Linked DNA regions of Homo sapiens. The protein of the gene in region 5 interacts with the protein of the main gene of each other region in a biochemical or structural test. Each region holds a gene or a part of one and is shown on either strand. Other genes may lie near its edges.

Evidence for each region.
Region 1: the proteins of PALS2 (region 5) and PLEKHH2 interact in a test that uses a peptide from one of them, tested with the Homo sapiens proteins (one large-scale study listed by IntAct).
Region 2: the proteins of PALS2 (region 5) and GJD2 interact in a test that uses a peptide from one of them, tested with the Homo sapiens proteins (one large-scale study listed by IntAct).
Region 3: the proteins of PALS2 (region 5) and TECPR2 interact in a test that uses a peptide from one of them, tested with the Homo sapiens proteins (one large-scale study listed by IntAct).
Region 4: the proteins of PALS2 (region 5) and TRPV3 interact in a test that uses a peptide from one of them, tested with the Homo sapiens proteins (one large-scale study listed by IntAct).
Region 6: the proteins of PALS2 (region 5) and F11R interact in a test that uses a peptide from one of them, tested with the Homo sapiens proteins (one large-scale study listed by IntAct).
Region 7: the proteins of PALS2 (region 5) and ATRNL1 interact in a test that uses a peptide from one of them, tested with the Homo sapiens proteins (one large-scale study listed by IntAct).

The regions. Positions count from the first base shown.
Region 1 is NC_000002.12:43,758,914-43,763,108, reverse strand, and holds part of PLEKHH2 (pleckstrin homology domain-containing family H member 2), read right to left. Parts: coding exon 4,080-4,195; intron 806-4,079; coding exon 719-805; intron 1-718. UniProt on the Homo sapiens protein: In the kidney glomerulus may play a role in linking podocyte foot processes to the glomerular basement membrane. May be involved in stabilization of F-actin by attenuating its depolymerization. Can recruit TGFB1I1 from focal adhesions to podocyte lamellipodia.
Region 2 is NC_000015.10:34,752,199-34,756,948, forward strand, and holds the start of GJD2 (gap junction delta-2 protein), read right to left. Parts: upstream 2,801-4,750; 5' UTR 2,291-2,800; coding exon 2,220-2,290; intron 1,175-2,219; coding exon 280-1,174; 3' UTR 1-279. UniProt on the Homo sapiens protein: One gap junction consists of a cluster of closely packed pairs of transmembrane channels, the connexons, through which materials of low MW diffuse from one cell to a neighboring cell.
Region 3 is NC_000014.9:102,369,180-102,373,374, forward strand, and holds part of TECPR2 (tectonin beta-propeller repeat-containing protein 2), read left to right. Parts: intron 1-564; exon of another isoform or gene 565-596; intron 597-1,237; exon of another isoform or gene 1,238-1,306; intron 1,307-4,195. UniProt on the Homo sapiens protein: Probably plays a role as positive regulator of autophagy.
Region 4 is NC_000017.11:3,516,169-3,520,363, forward strand, and holds part of TRPV3 (transient receptor potential cation channel subfamily V member 3), read right to left. Parts: intron 2,683-4,195; coding exon 2,408-2,682; intron 402-2,407; coding exon 289-401; intron 1-288. UniProt on the Homo sapiens protein: Non-selective calcium permeant cation channel. It is activated by innocuous (warm) temperatures and shows an increased response at noxious temperatures greater than 39 degrees Celsius. Activation exhibits an outward rectification.
Region 5 is NC_000007.14:24,688,452-24,692,267, reverse strand, and holds part of PALS2 (protein PALS2), read right to left. Parts: 3' UTR 1-3,816.
Region 6 is NC_000001.11:161,014,392-161,018,586, forward strand, and holds part of F11R (junctional adhesion molecule A isoform 1 precursor), read right to left. Parts: intron 1-4,195. UniProt on the Homo sapiens protein: Seems to play a role in epithelial tight junction formation. Appears early in primordial forms of cell junctions and recruits PARD3.
Region 7 is NC_000010.11:115,302,584-115,306,778, reverse strand, and holds part of ATRNL1 (attractin-like protein 1 isoform 1 precursor), read right to left. Parts: intron 1-4,195. UniProt on the Homo sapiens protein: May play a role in melanocortin signaling pathways that regulate energy homeostasis.

The DNA.
Region 1 (4,195 bases), on a different chromosome or scaffold from region 5:
AAAGTGTGTGTGTGTTTGTTTTTTAAGCAATTATAAGGGGAAACAGTGACTATAACACAAAAGAATAGTTTGGTTTCCAGAAAATTTTCAGTGATCTTCTGATTATAGCCACAGGATTAGACCTGCCAGGTGAATTTAGTAATTCCTGCTCACCAGATTAAACAAAAAAGAGAATAAAATTGTATTAAATAATTAGACACATGAAATATGATAAAAAATGTAAATTTCGGGTAAATAAATGAACACATATAGATATCATAGTTTGAATTTAAACTATGTGAAAAGTGCTAAGATGCTATATAAATGACATTATAGGAAATTATAGAAATTGTTAAAGAAGCCTTAGTGAAAGTGAACTTAAACTTTGGTAATTAAAGTTCCCACCTTAATGATTTCTTACAGATTTTTATTTTACACAGGAAACAATCTTCTTAACACTTTTAAAAAATAATCATTTCATGAATGTAACCATGATCACAATTTAGTCATGGTATCAAGATTTTTCTCATACACAATAAACGACCTGTCTTATCTTGTTTTAAAAGGTTAAATTATAATCATAGCTGTATTTGTAAAATGACTGTTCATGACATAGTATTAGGAAGAATGTTTCCTGGGTAAGAGAAAAATCAGATTAAGATATCATTACTTTCTGTTTACGGTACACTGAGCAATGGAAACAGTTGACTTAATGCAAAACTTGAGCGTTTAAACTTACCATGGAGTTGTATTCTAAGAGGCTTAAACCATCCTCATGTACAGCCAGCCACAAGAAAGTACTTCCAAGTGATGATGGAGTTATGGGCTATGAAGAGGTGAAAATACACTATATTATAAATACTAAGCAAAATTACAGGAATATTTTTCAGTCTAAATGTCATGTAACATTTGCCATTAAACAACAATAATAACAACAAAAATTTATTAAAAATCTCGCCTAGGAAAGAGGCAGGGTGGTATACCGGAGCTAAGAGTGAATTCGATATTAGGAGACCTAGCTTTGAGACCCAAACCTGCCATATATTAATGTATGCATTTGGATAAACTACTGAATCTGTTTGAGGCTCAATTTCCTCATCTTTAGCATAGGAACAATAATGTTTATATTTTACTTTTCTTCTGCGTTAAGACGTTAATAGTCAACAAGTTTTTAGGGTTTCTATGATGACCAAAATCCTAATGAAGCAAAATATACTGATATGCTTGATAAGTTGTGTAGTGCTATTACAAGGTAAAAGATTATTATTATAATTGCACACCTTTCCTGAAAGTTTATTAAATCTGATATTCAATGTGTAATAAAAACACAATAACAAGAAAATATGAAACTGTGTAATCAATAGTAATGAGAAATATGAAAATTTCCACCGAATTTTTTATTGTAAAAGCTACGAAATTGACTGGGTGTTGTGGCTCTCGCCTGTAATCCTAGCACCTTGGGAAGCCGAGGTGGGTGGATCATCTGAGGCCAGGAGTTCGAGACCAGCCTGTGCAACATGACGAAACCCCATCTCTGCCAAAGACACAAAAATCAGCTGGGCATGGTGGTGCACGCCTGTAATCCGATCTACTTGGGAGGCTGAGACAGGAGAACAGCTGGAACCTGGGAGGCGCAGGCTGCAGTGAGCTGAGATAGTGCCACTGCACTCCAGCCTGTGTGACAGAGTGAGACTTCATCTAAAAAAAAAAAAAAAAAAAGCTAAAAGCTACTCCTGGTTCTCATAGAAAAAAAAAGCTATGAAATTATATTAATAAAAAGAATCTCCTACCACTAGAACCCAACTGAAACCCATGAATGTTTTTGAGCAATTAATGATGCTTGTTTGGTTCCATTAACAAATGAAATCCTAAAAAAAATCTTAACTATTTCCCTTAAATTTTACAAAACAATGTCAAGACTATAGATATAAAACTGGAATGAATGTTGGGTTATTTTATATAATAAAACTTGCTAGCATCTCATATATACAAAACCCTGAGTTAGAAACTGTCTACTGAGGGCTGATTTGCAAAGGATAGGGAGAATTCAATTCAAAAGGATGCCCTTCAACTCTAGTGTCCACTGACAGGTGAATGGATAAACAAAATGTGGTATATATATACCTACAGTGGAATGTTATTCTGCCTCAAAAGGGAAGGAAATTTTGACACATGTTACAACATGGATGAACCTTGAAGACATTACACTAAGTGAAATAAGCCAATAACAAAAGCACAAATATTATATGATTTCTCTTACCTGAAGTTCCTAAAGTAGTCAAATGCATAGAGACAGAAAGTAGAGTGGCAGTTGCCAGGGCTGGGAGGAGGAGGGAGGACTGGGGAGTTAGGTACAGTTTCAGTTTGGGAAAATAAAAAAGTGTTTAGATGAATGGTGGTGACAGCAACACAACAATGAGAATGTACTTAATGCCACAGAACTATACACTTAAAAATGGTTACAATGGGCCAGATGCGGTGGCTCACGCCTGTAATCCCAGCACTTTGGGAGGCCGAGGCGGGTGGATCACTTCAGATCAGGAGTTCGAGACTAGTCTGGCCAAAATGGTGAAACCCTGTCTCTACCAAAAATATAAAAATTAGCTGAGCGTGGTGGTGTGCGCCTGTAATCCCAGCTACTTGGAAGGCTGAAGCGTGAGAATCGCTTGAACCTGGGAGGCGGAGGTTGCAGTGAGTCAAGATTGCACCACTGCACTCCAGTCTGGGTGACAGAGTGAGACTCCGTCTCAAAAAAAAAAAAAAAAAAAAAGGTTAAAGGGTAAATTTCATTATGTGTATTTTACCACACACAGAAAACAGGATGCCATGAAGCAACAAAGGAGGTGTCGCTTGTTATAAAGAAAGAAAAGTGAGCAAAAAAGATGCTTGTCACGTAATTTGAAAAGCAATATTATTATTTAATAATATTTTGTGCCAGCAAGCACATTTTATCAGAACAGAAAAGGGTATTTAATATTACTTCCAATGCTGAAGTTAGAATTAAAATCCATGCTGCTCTACAGTTCAAATCTATTCCTTGTAATTTTAAAAAGTAACGTTCAACTTCCCGTAAGTACATTAATTTTATAGATGTTTAAGAATACTAACTTTATCATCTTTTTCTTAATTAGTATACAGCTTTCAGTTCCACTAGAAAAAAATTAATTCTCACCTATCAATAATATAGTCACTCATAGAATCAGAGTTAGAAGATACCTTAGATTTTACTTTTCTAATCTAAGTATTTCATTAACAGATGAGGAAAAGTGAGGTCCAGAGAGGTAACCTGACTTGCCCAAAGTTGCACAGCTATTCAGCAATATTTATTAAGTGATAATTATTAATTACGTGCAAAGCACTACAGTAGGTACAAGAGGAAGATTTTAGGATCAGTGAGTTTATAGTTTCAAGGAGCATGCAATTTAATAGTGAGTATAAAACAAACACACAGAAAAATATAACACAAGGCAAGATGTATCTTAAGAGCCTGAGAAAGTACAAAGAGACATGTTTCAACAGAAAGAAAAGGAATCAAAAGGCATAATTTTTCCCTTGGGGAAAGGGCTGGCCATCCCTGGGCAGGGTGGGTCTCCTTCCTCAGTGTTCCTGCAGCAGTCTGTTCATGTGACTCATAGTGATATTTGCCATACAGTGGTTTGTTTATAGGCCTGTTGTTACAAAGTAAAATAGTCCTGGAAGTTCATGTACAATCCATCTGAAACAATAGGTTATGTATCCCTAGAGCTTAGCTCAATGTTTAGCAGACAGAACTTAGTAAATACTAATGAGCAAATGAGTGACAGAGTAAACATGTGCATGGATGAATGAATGAACAGAAGAATGCAGAGTTCAGCTGTGGTTTAGGACTCATGATTCACCTAATGAGTCCAAGAAATGATTTAGGGTGGGAAAAGTTGGGCAGAGAGGAAAAGATAGAGAAGCTTTTCTGCCCTTTCTCTAGTGTCTCTTCATTGTTTTCTTTACATTATTGGATATTTCTTCATTTTTTACAAAAGCCAAGGATACTAAGTCTGGGGTAAATCTGGTCAACTATGTACACAAAGGTTTTCATTATGCATCTCTCTCCCATTCTTTCTTACTTTTGCAAGAAACAACTTGGCACCAAAGAATGGCCACTTCCTGGCTACTGTCAAATAAATGCGCACACAGTCAGCAGCACTGTGTCCCCGGAGGGCCATCCATCTGGTTGAAAGTC
Region 2 (4,750 bases), on a different chromosome or scaffold from region 5:
TCAGGATCAGGCTAGGCCATAAACAGAAAGGGACCAAAGAAGTCTAATTGATCCATTTCATCACTCTACCCAATCGTCTCTGTAGAACCAATTAGGTGATATGTGAAAATGGGTCCACTTTTCCTCCTTTCCCATTGGTGCAAAATCTTCTTTTATCCAGTCTTATCCTACATCTTAATGGTGAGGGTCACATAAATGAGGGTGGATACAGCCACGTCTGAGCAGTCATCTGCCTTGGGGCTCCTTGCCATCCCCCAGACCTTCATGAAACCTGCCCTCTCACACATAGGCAGAGTCACTGGACTGAGTCCTGCCAAAATTGGGAACACTGACCCTTGGCAGGTCCTTGTTACGAATCTCATAGATTGACTTTCTCTTGGCCTGAGCCCCTCGCACAGCCAGCTTGATCTTGCGCCATCCCAGGTGGTTGAGTTCAGCCAGGTTGAGCACAACACAGATGCCACTTACAGCAAACATGAACACTAGAAAGACAGTCTTCTCAGTTGGCCGGGACACATAACATTCCACCTCCTTGATGCAGGGGTAGCGGTTACACTCATACAACCCTGGGACACTAAAGCCATAGAGAAAATATTGGCCAACCAGGAACCCAATTTCCAGGGCATTTCGGAACACCACTTGGATAATGTAGAAGCGGGAGATGCCTTCCTGCCTTCTGAGCTTGGATTTTGATGCAGTGCGTAGACCTGATGGGTGTGGAGTCAGCTCCTTAACCTCTAAACAATCTGGCTCTGTCTCCTTACTGGTGTTCTCTGTGTTCTGCAGCACCCCATTCACAATAGCATTTTGCAACTTCTTATCTTCTCGTTTGCCCCCACCACTGCCCCCACCCCCAGTTCCTCCAGGACCTCCTATGGACTCAGGGGGGTCTCTGTCCAGGGCTAGGAAGACTGTAGAGTAGCGGCGTTCTCGCTGCTTGGCGGACTGGTGCACAGAGTAGGTGATGAAGCAAAGACTGGGGGTACACACCATTATGATCTGGAAGACCCAGTAACGTATGTGGGAGATGGGGAAGGCGCGGTCATAGCAGGCCTGGTTACAGCCGGGCTGCAGGGTGTTGCACACAAACATGGTCTGCTCATCATCGTACACCGTCTCCCCCACAATGGCCACAATGAGGATCCGGAAGATCACCACCACAGTCAACAGGATCCTGAACGGAGGAAGAGGGAGGGAGAGAGGTTCTCACGGGCTGCGTCACTGACAGGAAACCCCTGCTCCTCCCTTCCCTTTGCTGGTGTTTACCAGTCTTTTGACTGGGGAGCTGTCCATCCCGGGCTGGTACTGAACTAGGAATCTGGGAAAGCTTTTTGTCTCTTCCTTTTCTGCTGAGTGCTGGTAGGCTGGGAATATTTCATATTATAGAGATCCCAGGTACACACATCTCCATACACTGGACATAGTCTACTTGCAACAGATAGATTTCATCTCTCTATATAGAATGTATAGAAACACAAAACACACCTTCACTCTGGATATGGCAAATGCACACAGAATACCTTTACAGATGGTGCATGCTTCGAGGTCTACACACAGGGTGTGTAAATAACTACTCCATGTGTATATTTAGTTTATTCTCAACATGAATATTAAATTTAATGCTTTATATAAGCAGATGGCTATGAATATATATTCATATATATTGAACTCATATATATATAAAGCTAGGTAGATAGAGACATAGATATAGATACAGACCCAAAAATGGCAATTGGGTGTGTAGGCTCGGTAAGTTTACACCGCCAAATAAGTTTGGTTTAGTAATTATTTGTTGAGAAAAGAGGCATCTGCTCTGAAGAGCAAATCCATCTCCCCATTTGCCCTTTTCTGTCCAAATGCAATCCTGCCTTCTTTGTAGATTCTATTTAGGGAACCAAATGGAGATTGGCTCTGACTCTGGAGAGTGGAGGGACCAAGACTGAGCCAGCGGCTCCTTTTCTGATGTGGGAAGAGTGAAGCCCCAGTGGTGCTTGATGGGGAAGGGATGGGCAGCTGGTTAGGAGTAGCTAGAGGAGGGGGGCATCGCGGGGCGTCGGGTAATCCCTCATCGCCGGGAACACCGGAGCCTTGACCTAGGACGATGGGGAGGAGGCAGAGGACGGACTGGGGATTGGAGCGGGAGACTCAGTCCAGGTGTGAGAAGGGACTCCCGGGGGCCGCCCGACGGGGCCCCCTGACCGCCGGCTTGGCGCCCTTACCTCCCGATCATAGTGGAGTGCTGCTGCACCGCGGCTTCTAGCAGCCTCTCCAAGATGGTCCATTCCCCCATCGCTGTGCATCCGGAGGCAGCAGACAAAGACTGGGCAGCACCGGGCACGTTCCCGCTCCTGGCCCCTCCCCGGGCCGCACTTCCAGAATGGGAGTGAATTGCCTCCCAATTAAAGAAGCAATTTTTTAAAAAATCCTCGAATCCCCCTTTCCTTTTATTGTACTTAAAAGAGAAGAAATGGGGAAAGAAATCCAAGCGCGTCCCGACCGATGGGGCAGTTGGCGCGGTCTAGAGAGAGGGCACGAACCTCGGGCGCCGTCCGGGGTTCGGGTCTGGATCCCGCGGACGCCGGGACGAGGGGCGGGGCGGGGTGGCAGCCTGCAGGTCCTCCAGCGCTCGCCCGCCCAGGAGAAGTCTCAGCGCCGCTCTCCGCCGCAGGTTGGGGGCCAGGGGAGGGTCCGAACACCGGCTCTGTTCCTGCTACTTCAGCGGGCACCTGGCGCTCCGGCGCGGCAGCCTGCGAGGCCAGGGCCGAGCGCGCGGAGCCGAATGCTGGGCTCGGGGATCCGCGGCCGCCGCCTCTAATCCGCCCTTAAGTAGTCTCCGCCTGCGTCACGCCAGGTCGGCGGAGGGGAGCAGAGCGCGCCGTGCGGCTGTCGCTGCGCGTCGGAGCCCGAGGGGCCGGGGACGCGCGCGGGGGGAGAGGGGCAAGAGTCCTGGAGGCCCGGCGGGGAGCGGGGCGATTTCGAAAGGAAGGACTGCAGCGCCCCTCGGGGCTTCTCGGGGAGCCCAGGTAACCTCACCTGACCGCCAGACCCAAGCAGGCGGAGGGGGAGCCGGGAGCGGACGCGTGGGTGAGTGGGGAGGGGAGTGAGTAGGTATCTTCTCTTCTCTCGGTGCATCCCTCACCTTTTCGCTTTTTGCCTCCTGGAGACAACTGAAATTCCTTCCCTAGATGGAGATGCTGGCTGAGGGAGGGCGAGTGGGGGCGACCACTTTTAAATCTCCCTTAGGGGACAGAGTGGCTGAGAGTGCTTCTGCAGAGTGGCTGCGGTTCGGTGCCTCTGTGGATCCGACAGTGAAGTGAGAAAGGCTTGATGGGAATCCATTTAGGCTGAAGGGTAAATGCAGGTGTGGAGCTGTCTCTCGGTATAGGGGTCAGGGCACACGAGCGCATCTAACAGGTGCCTCGCAAAGAGCAAGTGGGGTGGCCATGGTTAAAGGTCTCGCTTCCCCTTGCACTAACCCAGATGCTCGGCTCTTTTTAAATTATTGCTATTATTTTACTAATGGGAAGGGGGGGCGGGGTACTCGTCAGGTAAACTGTGATTTAATCTGAATTTAAGACCCAGTATTCTGCTAGCAGAAACAGAGCCACTCACAGCCTCGCCCTGCCCCCACTTGCCTTACTGGGTTTGGCTTTCTCCCCTCAACCAGCAGATCCCGGTTTTTAAAATTCACATTGTGTTGTCAGTTCTGTCTAGAGCAACTACTTAATTGGTTGCTGAAAAATTGAAACAACCTCACTAAGCTGCTAATTAGCCCAGGGGTCAGTATTAGGAGACACTGTAGCTGGCAGTGTTTGATGTAAATGTACCAAAAGTCCAATGGGAAAGTAATTGTCATCCTTTCGAAAACACGACCTTGAAAGGGTTGCTAACTTGTCCTAGGCATATAAAGGGACCTAGCCTTAATTATCCACAGGGATCATAGCACATATGTATATTACATAAGCCACACCATGGTGAGCCTTCACTTCTGGAACAACCGAGGTGGTTGGGTAGTTGGTGGCCCAGGGACTGGGAAGAAAGGTGCAGGGCATGGCCCTCAGTCCACTCACAGTGTACTTCTTCATAAAATGATGTTTAAACACACGGTCTAAGCTTCGCCGCCAGAAAGATCACTGAAATCCTCTGCTAGGGTTGACATCTTTACCCCAAGAAAGCAGCCTTTCACTGCAAAGGAGTAAAAGAGTCCACTAACAATGGAGAGAGGGATAAAGTGATTTATTAGTTTCCTTCTGAACACGGAGGAGGTTCAAGGGTGAGGACGAATGGATACCCTATTATCCAGTTAGCTTCCAGATGGAATGGTGATCCCCTAACCCAAACTTGGTGTGTTTTCCCAGGTTTCCCTTCTACTCCCCTTGGCCCTAGGTCCCTGTATTCCCTCCTTGTCTGGCAGACTCTCTTATAGTAAATGATCTTAGCCAAGAAGTGAATGAGTAAGTCCAAAGGGAAATCTGTTTAACATCTTTAAATGTCCCAAAATAGGCTGCACAACTCAAAATTGTCATTTTATGTGTTGGCTTTCCCAAACCGTTAAAGATTATGATCCTAAGAACATAGACTGCAGGAAATGCAATTATCAGACACTACGCTATGACTGAATTGTTGATCATTTGTGTATTATTTTGAAATATACTTTAATATGCCATATAGATTCCACATATAAACATGTGCAAACAACATAGGTGTATAAGTGCACAAAGACGCATATATATAGAACCTATATTTTAAA
Region 3 (4,195 bases), on a different chromosome or scaffold from region 5:
TAGAATAGTGCACTTGCTCTGCAAATGCACTTTTGAGGCAAATCTCTTGACTCCCTTCTAGCTAGACTGCAGTCTCAAAGCCCTTCTTGTGTAGAGCCTGCGAGCTGTCAGTGGATAGCATCAAATCAAGCGGATGGATTCTTGAAAGCTAAATGTCATCATTTGACAGAGCTACTATGAGGAAAAATATTTTTATTTTTAAAAAAGTTTTATTGATCGATTGATTTGAGATGGGGTCTTGCTCTGTCACCTAGGCTGGAGTGCAGTGGCTTGATCATGGCTCACTGCAGCCTCGAACTCCCGGGCTCAATGGATCCTCCAGGTTCAGTCGATCCTCCGGGCTCAATTGATTCTTGTGCCTCAGCCTCCTGAGTAGATGGTACTACAGGCACGCACCACCACACCTGGCTACTTTTTTGTATTTTTTGTAGAGACAGAGTTTTGTCATGTTGCCCAGGCTGATGTCAAACCCCTGGGCTCGGCCAAGTGCAGTGGCTCACGCCTGTAATCCCAGCACTTTGGGAGGCCGAGGCGGGTGGATCACAAGATCAGGAGATTGAGACCATCCTGGCTAACACGGTGAAACCCCGTCTCTACTAAAAAAAACAAAAAAACAAAAAAACAAAAAATTAGCCAGGCGTGGTGGCAGGTGCCTGTAGTCCCAGCTACTCAGGAGGCTGAGGCAGAATGGCATGAACCCGGGAGGCGGAGCTTGCAGTGAGCCGAGATCGCATCACTGTACTCCAGCCTGGGCGACAGAGTGAGACTCTGTCTCAAAAAAATAAATAAACAAACAAGCAAACAAACAAACCCTTGGGCTCAAGTGATCTGCCCACCTCAACCTCCCAAAGTACTGGGATTACAGATGTGAGCCACTGTGCCTGGCTGAGGAATAACTTTTTTTTTTTTGAGACAGAGTTTCGCTCTTGTTGCCCAGGCTGGAGTGCAATGGCACAATCTTGGTTCACTGGAACCTCTGCCTCCTGGGTTCAAGCGATTCTCCTGCCTCAGCCTCCTGAGTAGCTGAGATTACGGGCACCTCCCACCATGCCCAGCTAATTTTTGTGTTTTAATAGAGATGAGGTTTCACCAAGTTGGTCATGCTGGTCTCAAACTCCTGACCTCAGGTGATCCACCCACCTCAGGCTCCCAAAGTGCTGGGATTACACGCGTGAACCACCACACCCGGCCGGTAATAAGATTTTTAAAGGAGGAAATAACATTAGGCAATACTTACTGGTGAAGAGCTCAGTACTTCCGCTTGCTTGCTAGGAGATCTCATGAGCTAAAGCAGATACGAAAGTGCCTGCCAGAGATAGGGAGTAGAAGGTGTGAAGGCCAGGACGTGAGAGGCCAGGCCTGTTGTAATTAGAAGCAATTCAGTGTGGCTGGAGGACAAGTGAGAGATCCTCGGGTGGCAGAGGCCAGATCACCAAGGTTCTTGTAAGCCAGCAACACTTGGGCTTTAGCAGGAGGAAGATGGGGACCACTGCAGAGTGTTAAGCAAGGGAGTGATGACATCAGCTTTGCACATCAGGAAAATCCCTCTGTTTGCCACGTGGATGACGGGGAGGGAGAGGCGGGCAGATGAGCTGGGCACCAGAGAGAGCTGCAGGTGAGAGGTAATGGTGGCCCGAGCTAGGGGTGACACACTGAGGTGTGTGGGAGATGTACTGAATGGAGAATCGGGGACATGGAGAGGAGAGGAGGAGGGATCAGGGATGATGCTCCTTTTCTGGCTTGGTCAGCATGGCCCAGGCAACTGGTAGAAGATACAAGATAGGTAAGTGTCTTTGACATTGTTCATTTACTCTGTGTTTATAGCTAGGATGTAAGTTTTACTAATCCCATTTCAGATGGTAATTGGAGATCTAGAGAGGTTGAGCAGTTATTCCAGGGTGCCTCAGGTAGTTTTAGGAGCATTGGGATTTGAACTTGGGTCTTTTTCACTTCAGTATCATTAGCCACTCATTGTGCAGTTCTTCCTCGGTGGAAAGAGGGTCAGTTCTGTGGCTGTGGGTCTGAGACCTGGGGGTTGGGTGAGGTGGAACATGGAGTTGGGTGAACATTGGGTAAGGAGGAGGAGCAGAAAGTCTTAGCAGAAATGTTTGCTGTGTCTGCATTGTTTTTCCCAAACCTAGCGCAGGACAGTGAGACAGCGGCTCTATGCCTTTTCCTCAGCCCGTCCTAGACACTGTTTCTGCCAGGAGGACAGTTTTGCTGGGAGTTGGCCTCAACCTGCTCCTCCTATCTGAATGGTGGGTGAAGGACAGACAAGCCTGGTGCTAAGCTCATCCAGAGGCCCCCAGATAGGGAAATAGCATGGATTCTCTTCTGCCCGCTGGGGACTTCTTGGGCACCTGGCCCCCAGGCATGGCTGTCCTGACTCATCTGGGTGCTATGGCTTACGGGCCTCTAGATATCCTTTGGAAAAACGTGTGAGGCATAAATTGATATGAACATTCTTCAAGGCAGTTTGGCAATACATTTTTTTTTAATTCAACATTTCCACCTCTTGCAGTGTACTCCAAGAATATACTTGGATATATTTCTGTTGTTTTTGATGGCAAAATTAAAATCTTTTGGTTGAGAAAATTTTGGTTTATCCATACAGTGTGTTCTCTGCAGTTTTTCTGTATAGTCACTAAAAATCACATTCTAGGGGAATATTTAATGACATGGAAAATACTCATGATTTATTAAGTGAAAAAGTCTGTGTGTGTGCATATATGTTTATATACATATATCTGTAGCTATCTGTGTACATGGCATATCTCAGTATGATGAGATTGTGACTTTTCTTTACTTCTTTGTCCTTTTATTTTGAGATAGGGTCTCACTCTGTCACCCAGGCTGGAGTACAGTGGTATAATCAGCTCACTGCAGCCTTGATCTCCTGGGCTCAAGCGATTCTCTGTGTACCACCACACCTGGCTAATTTTTGTATTTTTTGCAGAGTCAGGATCTTGCCATGTTTCCCAGGCTGGTCTCAAATTTCTGGCCTCAAGTGATCTACCCACCTTGGCCTCCCAAAGTGCTAGGATTACAGGTGTGACCTACTGCACCCAGCTGCCTTTGTACTTTTCTTTTCTTTTTTTTTTTTGAGATTGAGTTTCACTCTTGTTGCCCAGGCTGGAGTGCAATGGCACAATCTTGGCTCACCACAACCTCTGCCTTCTGGGTTCAAGCGATTCTCCTGCCTCAGCCTCCCAAGTGGCTGGGATTACAGGCATGCGCCACCACGCCCAGGTAATTTTGTATTTTTAGTAGAGATGGGGTTTTTCCATGTTGGTCAGGCTGGTTTTGAACTCCCAACCTCAGGTGATCCGCCCTGACTCAGTCTCCTGAAGTGCTGGGGTTTACAGGTGTGAGACACCGCGCCCAGCCTTCTTTGTGCTTTTCTATATTAACAAATTTTTGAGGCCGGGCATGGTGGTTCATACCTGTAATCCCAGCAAGTCTGGGCGTGGTAGCTCAAGCCTGTAATCCTAGCACTTTGGGAGGCCAAGGTGGGTGGATCACCTGAGATCAGGAGTTCAAGACCAGCATGATCAACATGGTGAAACCCCATCTCTATTAAAAATACAAAAATTAGCCAGGCCTGGTGGCAGGCACCTGTAATCCCAGCTACTCGGGAGGCTGAGGCACAAGAATCACTTGAACCCAGGAGGCGGAGGTTGCAGTGAGCCAAGATCATGCCACTGCACTCCAGCATGGGCGACGGAGCAAGTCTCAAAAAAAAAAGCAACTTTTTGATAGTGAGCATTTATAACTGTTATAAAAAGAAACCTTTATTTTTAAAAAGTTAAATAAATTATGGCACATCAATGTGTGTATGAGTATGTATGTATGCACTCTTTAAGGAAACAAAGCCTTTTACTATTTCTGTGCCTTGGAAAGAAGAATAAGAAGTTTCTGCATCCATGAAGTGGAGGTAACATTCATGTCTAATGTTTGGGGATTGCAGGAAAAAAAAATGGAAGTAACTATGATGCCTACTTCATGTTTGTTTTTTTTTTCTTTCTTTTTGGTGAGGATTTAATGGGTTTGTGTGCTAAGAACAGTTTGTATTAAGTACAGACGGTTTTCAACTTACAGAGTTTCAACTTACTATTTTTTGACTTTAAGATTGAGCGAAAACGATACCATTCAGTAGAAACTGTATTTCCAGTAACCATACAACCATTCTGTTTTT
Region 4 (4,195 bases), on a different chromosome or scaffold from region 5:
AGAGCAAAATTCCGTCTCAAAAAAAAATAAAAGAAGAAAGAAAAATGCAGAGAGGGGAGCCGCTGTTGGCAGTCTCCTTCTCTTTCTCTTCTGAAGCTCAGGAACCCCCATCTCAGGGCCTGCAACCCCATAAGCAAATTCCTTCTTCCAAGGAGGCCACTGGAAGAGACAGTAGCTGTGGTTATGGTTAGCAAGTGGCGGCACTGTTTCTCTAACATCCTGTCACCATCCTGCCCCTCTCTACCCACCCCAAAGACCACCACCCCAGGGCCCTTCTCCCTTTGTTACCGCAAACACAGTCGGAAATCATCCTCGGCCACTTTGCACAGCTCTCCCATCCGGAATCTGCTCCTCAGCCATTCTGGTAACATTTTCTCAAACTCCAAGATGGTCCTGGCTCTCTGGGGACATAAGCAAGTCTAAGGAGTAGGCATCCACACTCACAAGCACACACAAGGGCACACACACTGTCGGGGAGCCCACTCCACCCTCACCTCATGCTTAATGCATAGATCGCAAGGGTTTGGCTAATCTACAGAATTCAAAGACAAAAAAGCAGGCCGGGCACGGTGGCTCACACCTATAATCCCAGCACTTTGGGAGGCCAAGGTGCGTGGATCACCTGAGGTCAGGAGTTTGAGACCAGCCTGGCCAACATGGCGAAACCCTGTTTCTACTAAAAACACAAAAATTAGGGCTGAGCGCACTGGCTCTTGCCTGTAATCCCAGCACTTTGGGAGGCCAAGGCGGGTGGATCACCTGAGATCAGGAGTTCGAGAGCAGCCTGGCCAACATGGCAAAAGCCGGTCTCTACTAAAAACACAAAAATTAGCTAGGCGTATGTCAGGCGCCTATAATCCCAGCTACTCGGGAGGCTGAGGCAGGAGAATCACTTGAACCTGGAGGTTGGAGTTTGCAGTGAGCCGAGATCCCACCATTGCACTCCAGCCTGGGTGACAGAGCGAAACTCCATGATATAAATAATATTTCTGAAAGCCCAGGAGCTTCCTATCTGAAAGTGCTGGGGTCCTGGAATCCCATAGCAGAGGACCGTTCAAACATCATTTGTCCCACCCCCTCCCAGGCTTGGAATCTCTCTGCAGTTTCCTGGCCATAATTTTTCCAGTCTCTCTTGAATAGCATCAACAAACCAATTAAGAGGGCCTTGGACAGGCGCAGTGGCTCACACCTGTAATCCCAGCACTTTGGGAGGCTGAGGCGGGCGAATCGCTTTGAGCTCAGGAGTAAGCGGCCAGCCTAGGCAACATGGTGAAACCCCATCTCTACAAAAAATACAAAAATGACCCAGGTGTGGTGGCGCGTGCCTGTAATCCCAGCTACTTGGGAGGCTGAGGTGGGAGAATCACTTGAGCCCGGGAGGCAGAGTTTGCAGTGAGCTGATAATCGTGCCACTGCACTCCAGCCTGGGCAACAGAGCAAGACCCTGTCTCAAAAAAAAAAAAAAAAAAAAAAGGAGGGCCTTAATAAAGAGAAACTTCCATGTGTGACATCAAAGCTTTTCTCCCTGTAGTAACCCCATGTACATCTGCCTTCCAGGACCACAGAAGGGATCTGCTCCCTCTTTCATAGGTTGTTCTGCAGATATCCAAAGGCACGCTCACCTTTTTCCAATGAGCATTTCTTTTTTTTTTTTTTTTTCTATTTTTGAGACAGAGTTTTTGCTCTGTCACCCAGGCTGCAGTGCCATGACACAATCTCAACTCGCTGCAACCTCCACCTCCTGGGTTCAAGCGATCCTCCTGCCTCAGCCTCCCAAGTAGCTGGGATTACAGGTGCGTACTAACACACCTGGCTAGCTTTTGTATTTTTAGTAGCGATGAGGTTTCACCATGTTGGCCAAGCTGGGCTCGAACTCTTGACCTCAGGTGATCCACCCGCTTCGGCCTTCCAAAGTGCTAAGATTACAGGGGTGAGCCACCATGCCCGGCCGCCAACCACCATTTCTTAAGAGGCAGTCTCCAGTCCTCTCCCAAACCTGGTTACCACCTCTGAACCCATCCTATGCATTGGTTTCCTCAGCATGTAAGAAGTGTTCAGGCCAGGATAGAATAGAGCAGAACTGTCACCTCCACTGTCCTAGACGCTGTACTCCTCTTAATGCAACCTAAGGTCAAACTTCAACATCCACACATCACACTGTCAACCCTGAGCAGAGCACCCCCATGAGCCTGAGTTTTTCTACACATTCTGTTGCACAGCCACACTCCCTAGACCCTACACTCAAAGAACCTAGGCTAAGGCCTCCTCAAACCTGGCCACACACTGAGGAGCTTGTGCAGATTCTCAGGCCCCACCTCAGACCCACTGGTGCTGACAGTAGTCAATGACCACGTGCTGAACTGAGTCCCGTGGAGGCCCCCACGCTGGGGTCTCCACCTAGGCTCACCTGCAGGCGCCAGATGCGTTCGCTCTCCTTGGAGACGTTCTCCACAGTCTCGCCCATCAGAGCAATGAGCATGTTGAGGAGGAGAACAAAGGTGAGGATGACATAGGTGATGAGCAGGAACAGAAAGAGAATGGGATACTTGGAGTTCTGCTGGATGTTCAGGTCACCCAGGCCTATGGTGAGCTTGAAGAGTTCCAGCACTGCGTCGCTGAAGCTGCCGTAGGAGCTGCAGTCCTTGTTGTCTTTGGGACACTTCTCGATCAGCGAGGCCAAGGCTAAGGGAACATAACAGGGTGCTCTCCTCAGCTCTCTGCCTGGTAATTACTCTACAAGCTTGCGTGTATTTGCCTACATGACAAGCCTGCTGCCTCCTTCTCTCTGGCCATTAAATCCCATCTCCAGTTTCAGGTCCTCTCAAAGCCTCATCAGGCTGGCTTCTCTGGCCTGGCCTCCTGCAGAAAGCCCTTCCACCTAACAAAGCCCAGAGTCTTCTCTCCTTCCTTTACCCCGCAGTCTGCCCTTGATCACTTGCAGCCTTGCAGAGCCACTAATTATAATCCATGTGTGTGTCCCTGGCTCCCCAGCTAGTCTTTGAGCTCCTGACTTCCTCTAGCCTGGGTCACCTCCCTCAAGGCTGTAAGATCCTGAGTCTCCTCCTAATGCTCTGTTTTGAGTTCCCTGTGAGCAAGACCAGGCTCACACTTCCCTTCTTTCCAACACACCACAGTAGAGGTTCACTGCTGAATGGTTGGATGGATGGATGGATGGATGGATGGATGGATATGGAGGGATGGATGGAGGGATGGATGATTAGATGGAGGGATGGATGGATGGATGGATGGATGATTGGATGGATGGATGGATGGATGGATGGATAGATGATTAGATGGATGGATGGATAGATGATTGGATGGATGGATGGATGGATGGGTGATTAGATGGATGGATGGATGGATGGATAGATGGATGGATGGACCAATTGATCGATGGATGGATGGATGATTAAATGGATGAATGGATGGATGACTGGATGGATGGATGGATGGATGGATGGATGATTAGATGGATGATTAGATGGATGGATGGACTGATTGATCGATGGATGGATGGATGATTGGATGGATGGATAGATGGATGGATGGATGGATGGATGGATGGATGGATGGATGGATTGATGGATGAATGATTAGATGGATGGATGGATGGATGGATAGCTGGATGGATGGACCGATTGATCGATGGATGGATGATTAAATGGATGAATGGATGGATGACTGGATGGATGGATGGATGGATGGATGGATGGATGGATGATTGGATGGATGATTAGATGGATGGATGGATGGATGGATGGATGGATAGATGGATAGATCAATGGATGGATCGATGGATGAATGATTGGATGGATGGATGGATGGATGGATGGATGGATGGATGGACGGATAGACAGGTGGATGAGCAAATTAAATGAGAGAGTAAATAGATGGATGAATAAACAAGCAGGTGAAGGAGCAAATAAATAAGCAAATTGTGACCCAGAAAAGGTACCAGACAGATGGAAACAGCTACTTAATTTCAAATGTCAATGGTCACTGAAGAAAAGAAAAAAAAGCAACTGGTACGTGGGGGAAAATGATATCTCTCTATGCAGAGGTTAGAAATACAACCAGATCGTGCTGTTCCCTCTGTTGTAAATGGAGAGATTTTAAGAGGGGGCTCCTTCCTGGTCCCAGCAGACCAGAGAGGCTCTCACAGTTGTATCTAAAGCAAACTGTGAGAGTAACGTGA
Region 5 (3,816 bases):
AGAATATTTTTTAAAAAGTACTGCAGTGTATTGCCAAAGTGGTGTGAACCATGCTTACTTTAGAAATGAGATATCATCATTCTTTCACTGTTTAGTATATTAAGGACTCATGTTCGAATCTCTGCATTTTTCAAAAACTATTCCAAGAACACAGAAGCTAGCATGATGAATTATGGGAAATATTTTAAAAAGAATATAAATTGCAAAACGTTAGAACAAAAATGCAATTTAAAAATAACCTTACCTTAAAAAAATTATAGAACTGTCATCTTCCTCAGGTATACAATATATGCTTGCATAAAAACTGACAAGATGCTCAATTATTAGTCAAATGTATTCTTAAATTTTGTGAGTATTCATTTGTACTATATACAATAATCCCATTATTTAAAAGAATGAATTTCTCCCAAAAATTCCAAATACATTACAGATGTTATTACATGAATTCTCACAGCAAACCTCTTGAAATAAGACAAGGGCAGGTATCATAATCTCAGCCTGAATCATATTAAAGATTCATTCAAAAGTTTAAATAAGAATTTCCAAAGGGGTTTCCATCCAGAACCCTGCCCTTTTTCCCTAAGAAAATTAAATTTATTATAATAATGACTACTTTCTGAGTTTCTCATATATTTTTCAGAAAGATTATCAGCTTCAAGGTGGAACCAGAGCGTTTTAAAACAATCTAAAAAAAGTTTCAGAATGTCAAAGAAATGGGAGTAATTAAAAATTTTAGAATGCTAGTTATAATTACATGAATGAATACATTCAGTTTTATATTCATACATTTTGGGAGAATTTTACATATTATACACATAGCTGTATATATATATATATATATATATATATATATATATATATACACACACACACACACATACATAATATATGGCAACTCGAACATTTAAAAAATGAACTGCTATCTATGTACATAAAACTTCAGGATTGCCTTTTTCATGTTTAGTTAAGGTTCATTACTACAAAATTATTGGCTCTCTAGCCTGTGATTTCTGGATAATGGAGTACTGTTTCAGAAGTTACAAAAGTAAAATTTAAGTAGATTATTATTTTGAGCAATTTTCAAAATTGTTATCTTTAGTTTGCCAATTCAAAATAATTTTACCTAACTCTATGGCTATCCACCTTGAAAATCAACTCCAGTCACTGGGATCATGACACTTGTTATACATAAAAATAAGTACCATTTAATAATTTTTAAACCAAGGATCATTTTTTATTGTCATTGGGATATTATGGTCAAAGCAGTTAGTATCTGGACATAATCTATAATGTCACATGGTTTTATTGCTAACTTGGGTTATTATCTAAATTTGCCTTAATAATCTATTTGTTGCTTTAAAGGAAACTTCTTAAGAACTACTATAAATTTATTGGATTCTAGAATCTAGGATTTAGGCTACTAATGCTGTAGGCATACTGGGTTTCTCTTATAATTTCTATTTCAGAAAGCTATGTTCAGCAATTGTATAGTTAGAGTTAGCCAAAATAAACAAAGTCCTGATGTATTTGACATGTGATATTACCAAATATCACACAGAAATGGAGACTGCATAATAAAGGCATGGCTGTAATGAAAGTGAAAATTCTACTTTTTAGGGCCATCACATTTATTTCACTAAGCTATGGTTAAATGACTTATCCAGGCACATCACCTCTATGGGTATTTGTACATTTGAAAATGAAAAAATATATATATAGTCTTAGGTTGTGTACAGTCATGCCCTGAGTGCTGAAATGTGGACACTGACCTATCCACAAGGAGCCCTCAGGCACATTAATACGTTGGCACATCATGTTTCCCAAAAGCACATGCATGTGTGTGTCTATTTCAACTCTTAACAATTGCTCAACACCACTCTAAACCATTTTCGCTTCCATAAAGCTAATTATCGCAGATCTTCCCAAAAGAGAAGTTCACATTTCCTTGATCACAGCTATACTCTCATTACCTAGGAAGAACCCTGGGACCTCTGGGGCTGTTTGCCCCCGCAGAGCACTGCTCATTCCTGCAGATTCATTTGGGACTTGGGTTTCAAGTTCAATGATTCTTCATTGAGATACAATGAACTTATCTAACTGTATTCTTGTTAGTACGGGCATCTAGACTGAAATGAACTAAACTGCATCATTTCATTTTATATTAGGAGAAATCTAATGTGCATTAATTAAGTAGTCAATCATGAATACCATTTATAATAGAAATAATTCCTTTAAGTATATTTTCTAAGTAATACATTTTATATCACATAAGGCTAATATACATGATGTAAAAGTCATCTATTGTACCAAGATGATTGAAATATTTTGCAGATAAACTTCTTGTGCTGCTATAATTATCCCAAAGCTGTTTAAAGAGGCTCCATGCTGCAGCATGAAAGTACATTAGAGAATACAGCACATTTCCTGAGTGAAGAACTGAAATTTCTCTTAAAATTTCAAGTGTGTGTTGAAACATTGTCATAGGGCATCACCTTGATACTGTGCTTTAATTCATGTTGCTTTGAGAAGCCAAGAATTTGGTGTAAACACATGTAGTTTGAAAGTTTCCACTGTTATTAAAATAGTATAATCCATTTTGTCACCAATTCCCTGTCCTAGGACAAGAAACGTGAATTTGTGTTCTGGCCATGAAATCTAGAATCAAAAAAAGAAAAAAAAAAAAAAAAAGAAAAACCTATAGATTTCCAACTTTAACAATATGACAACTTGGGTGTTTTGTTTTATTGTGAAAAAGATTTTAAACAATGTGTCAATACTGCCTATTGTCATATATTTTCTTTTCCTTCAAAGTCCTCCCAGCTGGCGTTCCAAATGACAACTTTGGTGAGGGAAAAAACAAATTCAGCAGCCAGGTGTCTGGCACCTAACACCAGACAAAGATGACCATCAATATTTAAACACCTAATCCTTTAAAGTGTGAATAATGTTTACATGAAAAGCTAGCAACAATACAGAATGTGGTTACCTTAATTTAATAATGAGCTGCATCTCTGAGTATGTTTTAGGAAGAATTTCTATTATCCAAGAATCCTAAAGGAAGATATTAACTGAGGTGAATGTGGGAATTTGTATAAGTCAATGCTTCTAAAGGAGAACTTCTTTCGGTAATCATTAAACAAAAAGTACACTTCTTGGCTAGGTGCAGTGGCTCATGCTTGTAATCTCAGCACTTTGGGAGGCCAAGGTGGGTGGATCACTTGAGGTCAGGAGCTCGAGACCACCCTGGCCAACATGGTGAAACCCCATCTGTACTAAAAATACAAAAATTAGCCGGACATGGTGGCACCCAACTGTAATCTCAATTACTTGGGAGGCTGAGGCACGAGAGTCGCATGAACCCAGGAGGCAGAGGTTGCAGCGGGCTGAGATCGCGCCACTGTACTCCAGCATGGGTGACAGAGAGAGACTCCATCTCAAAACAAACAAACAAAAAAACAAAGTACATTTTTTAACAGATATGTAAAAAATATACAAAACATTTTATATATATTATATAATACATAATATACATATTATATAATGTATATATTTTGTGTGTATGTATACAAAATAGCTGACAATTATTTCCCAATTTTTTAAGTTGTTCAATGGGTTTGGTTCTCAACACAACAGACAAAACAGGTACCCTAAGGATCACATCACATTTCTAAAAGCACAAAAACCTCCAACTGCAAACTTAGAGGCATCTCTAAACATCACTAAAATTTGCAGAGGCATGATACATTTGCTGACCATGTTCTAATAAAACCATTGTTTAAAGTAGTAGGTTCCTTTTGTCAGTCAAAATTTTACATG
Region 6 (4,195 bases), on a different chromosome or scaffold from region 5:
GCCAAGGCCACAATCCCTAGAAACCAATATGGGCCAGGTGTAGTGACTCATACCTGTCATTCAGCATTTTGAAAGGCCAAGGCAAAAGGATCCCTTAAAGCCAAGAATTCAAGACCAGCCTGTACAACAGATGAGACCCTGTCTGTACTAAAAAAATAAAAAATTAGCCAGGTATGGCTCACCACTCACACTTGCCTATAGCCTCAGCTATTCAGGAGGCTAAGACTGGAGGATTGCTTGAACCCAGGAGGTCAAGGCTGCAGTGAGGCCAGGCACGGTGGCTCATGCCTGTAATCCCAGCACTTTGGGAGGCCAAGGCAGGCGGATCACTTGAAGTCAGGAATTCAAGACCAGCTTGGCCAACATGGTGAAACCCTATCTCTACTAAAAATACAAAAATTAGCCGGGCAGCTCACACCTGTAATCCCAGCACTTTGGGAGGCCAATGGGGGCAGATCACAAGGCCAGGAGATCAAGACCATCCTGGCTAACATGGTGAAATCCCATCTCTACTAAAAATACAAAAAAAAAAAAAAATTAGCAGGGAATGGTGGCGGGTGCCTGTAGTCCCAGCTACTTGGGAGGCTGAGGCAGGAGAATGGCGTGAACCCGGGAGGCAGAGCTTGCAGTGAGCCGAGATCACGCCACTGCACTCCAGCCTGGGTAACAGAGCAAGACTCCATCTCAAAAAAAAAAAATTAAATTAAAAAAATATGTACAAAAGGCTGGGCACAGTGGCTCATGCCTGTAATCCCAGCATTTTGGGAGGCCGAGGCAGGCAGATCACGAGGTCAGCAGATCGAGACCATCCTGGCTAACACGGTGAAACCCCGTCTCTACTAAAAAAAATACAAAAAATCAGCCGGAGTGGTGGCGGGCCCCTGTAGTCCCAGCTACTCGGGAGGCTGAGGCAGGAGAATGGCGTGAACCCGCGAGGCGGAGCTTGCAGTGAGCCGAGATTGCTCCAGTGCACTCCAGCCTGGGTGACAGAGCCAGACTCCATCTCAAAAAAAAAAATATATATATATATATATATACACACACACAAAAATTAGCCAAGAATGGTGGTGCACGCTTGTGTCCCAGCTACTCGGGAGGCTGAGGCAGGAGAATCACTTGAACCTGGGAGGCAGAGTCTGCAGTGAGACAAGATCACGCCACTGGACTCCTCCCTGGGCAACACAGCAAGACTTTGTCTCAAAAAAAAAAAAAAAGGCTGCAGTGAGCTATGATCATGCCATTGTACTCCAGCCTGGGCAACAGAGTGAGACCCTGTTTCAAAAACAACAACAACAACAACAAAACTCCATGATATATATATATAAGCAAGATGTAGAATATATGTAGTATGCCTCTTTTTGTGTCAGAAAGGGGAGAAAAAACAAGTATTATTTATATATACTTGTATCTGTAAAATGAAACACTGAAGAGACATTAGAAACTATTGGGGTTTGGGGTGAACAGGAGCAACATGGGAATGAGATACCCCACCCCTTTGATATCATTTTAATTATAAAACCATGTCAATTAACCTATTCTAATTAAATTTTTTTAAAAAAAATCACAGTAGCTCTATCTTGAATCGGAACTGGGCTGGAGACTCCACAAGACATGATCACAAAGGAACTGAAGAGCAACATGGTGAGGTAAAAGTGGTCTGGAGTGGCCAGGTGCAGGGGTTCACGCCTGTAATCCCAGCACTTTGGAAAGCCTAGGCAAGAGGATTACTTGAAGTCAGGAGTTCGAGACCAGCCTGGCCAACATGGTGAAAACCCGTCTCTACTAAAAATACAAAAAATTAGGGGCCGGGCGCGGTGGCTCACGCCTGTAATCCCAGCACTTTTGGAGGCCGTGGCGGGCAGATCATGAGGTCAGGAGATCAAGACCATCCTGGCTAACACAGTGAAACCTCGTCTCAACTAAAAATAGAAAAAATTAGCCAGGCATGGTGGCGGGCGCCTGTAGTCCCAGCTACTCAGGAGGCTGAGGCAGGAGAATGGCATGAACCCGGGAGGTGGAGTTTGCAGTGAGCCGAGATCGTGCCACTGTACTCCAGCCTGGCGACAGAGAGAGACTCTGTCTCAAAAACAAATAAATAAATAAATAATACAAAAAATTAGCCGGGCGTGGTGGCGCGTGCCTGTAGTCCCAGCTGCTGGGGAGGCTAAGGCAGGAGAATCGCTTGAAGCCGGGAGGTGGAGGTTGCAGTGAGCCAAGATCATGCTACTGCATTCCAGCCTGGGTAACAGAATGAGACTCCGTCTCAAAAAAAAAAAAAGTGATCTGGAGCCAGAAGGCAAAGACTAAAGGACACTGAAATTCCACTGCCACTCGTTTCCTAGTTCCAGGTAGAACTAGGAAGTGCCAGTCACCAGTTTCTAGTTTGGAGGGAACAATTCACTCCTGGGAGTAGAGGGAGAGGAAAGGAGGAGTGACTCACCAGTGTGGGGAAAAGCAAGAGAGATCAGATTGTTACTGTGTCTGTGTAGAAAGAAGTAGACATAGGAGACTCCATTTTGTTCTGTACTAAGAAAAATTCTTCTGCCTTGGGATGCTGTTAATCTATGGCCTTACCCCCAACCCCTTGCTCTCTGAAACATGTGCTGTGTCAAACTCAGGGTTAAATGGATTAAGGGTTGTGCAAGATGTGCTTTGTTAAACAAATGCTTGAAGGCAGCATGCTCCTTAAGAGTCATCACCACTCCCTAATCTCAAGTACCCAGGGACAAAAACACTGCGGAAGGCCGCAGGGACCTCTGCCTAGGAAAGCCAGGTATTGTCCAAGGTTTCTCCCCATGTGATAGTCTGAAATATGGCCTCGTGGGAAGGGAAAGACCTGACTGTCCCCCAGCCCAACACCTGTAAAGGGTCTGTGCTGAGGAGGATTAGTATAAGAGGAAGGCATGCCTCTTGCAGTTGAGACAAGAGAAAGGCATCTGTCTCCTGCCCGTCCCTGGGCAATGGAATGTCTCGGTATAAAACCAAGACATTGTACGTTCCATCTACTGAGATAGGGAAAAACCGCCTTAAGGCTGGAGGTGGGACATGCGGGCAGCAATATTGCTTTGTAAAGCATTGAGATGTTTATGTGTATGCATATCTAAAAGCACAGCACTTGATTCTTTACCTTGTCTATGATGCAAAGACCTTTGTTCACGTGTTTGTCTACTGACCCTCTCCCCACAATTGTCTTGTGACCCTGACACATCCCCCTCTCAGAGAAACACCCACGAATGATCAATAAATACTAAGGGAACTCAGAGGCTGGCGGGATCCTCCATGTGCTGAACGCTGGTTCCCCGGGTCTCCTTATTTCTTTCTCTATAGTTTGTCTCTGTGTCTTTTTCTTTTCCAAGTCTCGTTCCACCTTACGAGAAACACCCACAGGTGTGGAGGGGCAACCCACACCTTCACACCAGTCTACGGTTTTGAGGTATGCCTGCCCCTGAAAGGGCAAAGCTAGAAGGGCTTGAGTCAGAAACATCAATAGTAAACACTGGGACTCAGAGAATGACCCAGAAGCAGGGCAGCAGTTCTGCCCTGCCCACGCGGAACTCTTCAGTGATGATACCACACTCAAGGAAGGGCAGGGGAGCAAATGCCAGCATTCCAACCCAGGTTTCCCTCTCTCCCCTGTGGTTACACTGTAAGTTGACCTATCCACACTCACCTCTACTGTGTCTCTCCCTACCTGGTAGACAGCTGAACCTTTTCTAAGGGACAGGTTCCCTAGGGAAAGGGAGGCTAGTACTCTGGGTCATCAGTTTTACTTTTCCCAAGTCCAGCTCTCCCAGTGTCTACCCTCTGGATCTCTGCCCCACAGGGTCAGGGTTTCCCCTCCATTAGGTTCCCCAAGCTGGGGCCAGGCCTTTGCCTGACTTGTCAGTCCTATCTTGCCTTTTCTACTTCCTCCCTGACAGCAGAGCCCACAATGAAGAACAGGGAGAACATATGGGCAACCTATCCACGCCTCTCAGGGACAGTGGACAAGCTAGACACCCAAGAAAAAGCTCCTGCTTTTTGATTTCTGACTCTAGCCATTTGGGATCTCCCTGCTTCCTTTTTTACCTACTCAGCTAGGGACAGCATTCTGGCATTCTTCCATCCTCACAAAATCCACAGGGGATAACAGCTGCCCAAAAATAATCCCTTCATGTATATGTAATGTAACTATTATGCTGGTTGATCCTCCTGA
Region 7 (4,195 bases), on a different chromosome or scaffold from region 5:
AAGAAAAATAGCTAAATATTAGCAAACAAAAATACAAAAAATGCAAACAGAGTTAAGAAATATTAAGATATATCTAGAAGTTCCAGCAACTATTTTAATATTTGCAACAAGAGTAAAGAGAAGAAAACATGTATTTTAAGACATTACACAACATTTTTAGCAGATGAAGAAACAAACTACTCTTCAGATTTAAAGAGCCAATGAGAAAATCTAAAAAATCTAAAAATCCTTTTCTTCAATGAAAAACTGTAAAAAAAAATTAATTTTAAAGATCCACATCAATCACTGAAAAACTGAATTAAAACAATGAAAAATTTTAGAATGCCAACAAGAAAGAAAAAAATCTTAAAAGCTCCCAAAGGGGGGATAAAAAAGATGTTCCACAAAGGAATGAAAATTAGATTGGCATTGGAATTCTTATCCACAACACTGAGTGCTAAAGAGGTTCCAAGGAAAAAATTATTTGGAATACCACATTTAGCCATTTTATCATTCAAGTGAAAATGAAAAGTACACTTTTAGACATGCAAAGACTCAAAAGTTTATGTCACAATTTATTTGAAAGAAATTACTAAAGATTATTTACCAATGGTTAAAATGGTAAAATTTATGTTATGTGTGTTATACCACCAAAAAAAATTGTAAAAAAACAAAAAAGTAGAACAAATGAGAAGGAATGGGATATAAGAAAAATTTGTGACAACATAAGCTTAATTCTAAATAATTTTTAGAAAGTTGTTAAGAGTATAAGAGCTTAGACTTTCACAAACCAGTTTTTCCCTACTTTCTAGCCTCTTTTATTGTGAAATATAACACACATACAATTACATAAAGAAAAATATAAGATTAATAAATTCCTATAAACACACACTCTGGACCTGCACAAAGCCTAGAAGTGGAGCATTGCCTCTCTTGTTTCATTTCCTAATCAGCACCCCTAAACTTCCCCCAGCAACATCCTCTAGCTGACATTTTTGAGAATACACTTTTGCCTTACTCTATAGTTTTACCACCTAAATACGCATTTCTAAACAATACAGTGCCGTTTTGACTATTTTTTAACTTTATACCTAAATGTAGTCAAACAGTATGTAATCTTTCATGTCTAGCTTCTTTCATTGAACAATAATGTTTGTCGAGAGACAAGCATGACTATTGAGGCAGGAGAAGGTGCGCATTGTCTCATTCCCCACAAGTCTTCAACTCTTGTATTCAACTCTCCTGGGCAGCTGGCTCCTAGTTTTGAAATGTTTTGCTATGCACAAAGGCCATTTTATGCCTGCAACCACCACACTGCCACCCACTTGATCAGGTACAACACCCCCATTCCTTACCACAATCCCTAAAAAAGGATATCAACAGGGAGCTCAACTCATAATACATCCAACCATGTCCATCCCAGGCATACCTCTCCACTTCATGCCAAGAGCCTGAAGGAACAAATGAACACAACAGCTGCAGCTGGGATTCCAGCCTGCATTGTGTTACTGTTTTGCCTTAGCTCTTCAAGTAACAGTGGTGCCCACTATGGACCAAATACATATTTGACTGGACCACTGAGAGTGATGAAAGGCCTAGAAAGTCAGTAAGTCTCTACGTGCATTGCCTTATGCAGTGGCTACCTCTAAATGGGAAGATGACTCATCTGAGCAAGAAGGACTAGTATCAACTGGGTGACCATGTTGTCCAAGGGCCATACACTTACAGGCTTCAACATACTAGATTTACCACCAACAGGGATCTCAGAATTATGAAGTTACTGTGATAGAAGTTATTAAGAAATTATTTTAGGCAGATAGAGAAAAAAGGAGTCCTTGGAAAGTTTTCATTTCTTTTTAAAACACCTCCAAAAGTGTTTCTTGTCTAACAGAAAAGTCCCAGCTCTTAGAGCCAAGCCGGCAACCTTTAGTATGCATATGCAAGCCATTAGAAACTGGGTCCACTCAACATGGCGATTCCCACCTTTGTCCTCTTGCCCTTGCCCCACATGTATTTGGGAATATGGCCGCCCCACATATCCCCATGTGTGTAGAACATCATGGTGCCCTGCATTTGCATATTAAAAGGCTAGGGTGGGAAGGCCAGTTTTTTTCCGAGGGCTACCTGAATGAAAGCCTGGTCAAACCAATCCCCTAAGCTCTATGCAAATCAGACACCCCCTCCTCCAGCCTCTACATATACCTGCCTGGTACGCACCACACTTGGGGTTTCCTCTTTCGGCTGTGGAGCCCCCATCCCTCTGTCTCTGTAAGAGCGAACCTTCTGCCTTTTCTTTTCTTTCTTGCCTATTAAACTCTCTGCTCCTTAAAACCACTCCACGTGTGTCCGTATTGTTTAATCTAATTCAACGTGAGACAAGAGCCCTGGTGTTCCTCCACTCATGGGAGCCATATCATTACTATAATTGCTAACTAGAATGGGTTGCCTCTCAGAGGAAAAACAAGAAAGCTCAAAGGAGGGAAGGAAGAGTGGACGGGCAGAAAATAAATATTGCTGCTGGGATAGTTGTTTGTATTTTCATCAGTCAGGCTGCCAGTGGCTGCTCCTATGGAGGGACTGCAAGAAAGTCAATGATCTAATAAGAAAGTCCTGAAGATACTTATGAACGTTATAGAAACAAGCTGTGTTATGGCCTACACTCCTAGGAAAACTCCAAGTGGCTGTTTCCTGGAGAGAAAGGGTCAGAGGGAAACCAGTGGACTGATGCAAAAACCTAAAATGGACCTTTGACCTTTAAAAGTTTCAAATATGACAAATGAAGAGAGATGATGATAGTGGAGAACTTAGGGCTGTTAGGAGAAAGGAATTAGAATCGGGATAAAGATCCCCTGGAGAGAATTCCTGTATAGAGAGGGAAACTGTTGCTTTCCCTATCTCATTGAATACATTTCAACCACAACATATTCCTGAGTTTAATAGATACACCAGACTCCAAGTGGCTGTTATTTTGTCTCCTTTGACTGAACTGTAACTACAGTTTCTTTGGAACCTGGATCAAACACACCAACATGTTAATTAGATTCACTCATTTCAAATCCTGTTTACTGCAGGTTAAAGTATTGGAAGAAAAAAAAATCCAAGGAGTCTTGCTCCTTTTTTCTTTGTGAGCTTCCTGGACACTCAGATGTTGAGAAGAAGGGAACTGAAAAAGAAGCAAAAGAACTTCTGATTTTATTTGTCTGTTTGGACTTTACCAAATAACTGATATTTTGCTTTGTTCAAATCAAAGCATCCTCAACGGACATAAACTTGGATACCGGCCGGGCGCGGTGGCTCACGCTTGTAATCCCAGAACTTTGGGAGGCCGAGCTGGGTGGATCATGAGGTCAGGAGTTCGAGATCAGCCTGGCCAACAGTGAAACCCCATCTCTAAAAAAAGTACAAAAATTAGCTGGGCATGGTGGCACATGCCTGTAGTCCCAGCTACTTGGGAGGCTAAGGCAAGAGAATCACTTGAACCAGGGAGGTGGAGGTTGCAGTGAGCTGAAATTAGGCCACTGCACTCCAGCCTGGGCCACAGAGTGAGACTCCATCTCAAAAAAAAAAAAAAAAAAAAACCTGCATACCAACTTTATCTCAGGTGATTCTGCAGCTTTCTATGGTGGTAGAATGGTAACTACTGGGCCCCTGAAAAGTATATTATTCAAAAAAAAAAGGACATAAAGTCTGGATTAATTACAAGAGGGACAGATACCAATGAGTGGGATATGAATGAATGCAACCAACATTGAGAAACAGGTCATGAGAGCAGCAGGAGTAAGTAAAACTTTCTACTTTTTTGTTCCAAATCTGAACATACCAATTAATTCAGGTGAAAAGGCATATTTTTGATGAGCGTCAGTGTCAAAGAGTGGATTGCAGAAAGATAAACCATATTCTCTGCTATGAAGAAGCTAGCTAAGATTGGCACTTTTTTCTCCCAAGCAGAAAGAGTTTCACACGGTCTTAAGTTCCTACAAGGCTAACAAGTGCTCCCAGTAGCATTATGCAATTCCCTTGGCAGCTGTATTCTGACGCCATTTGTGTTTGTAAGCAAGGCCACTCTCACCACATAGTACCCAGTATTAAATATTCATTCAGGTGCAGCCTTATCCTATAGTCCTTAGAAAACATGAGAGATCAGCAAGGGGCAAAATCTTTCTCCTGAAGTATAACTCATAGCAAGCCCAGTACTGCCCTGCTGACATAACTCTAT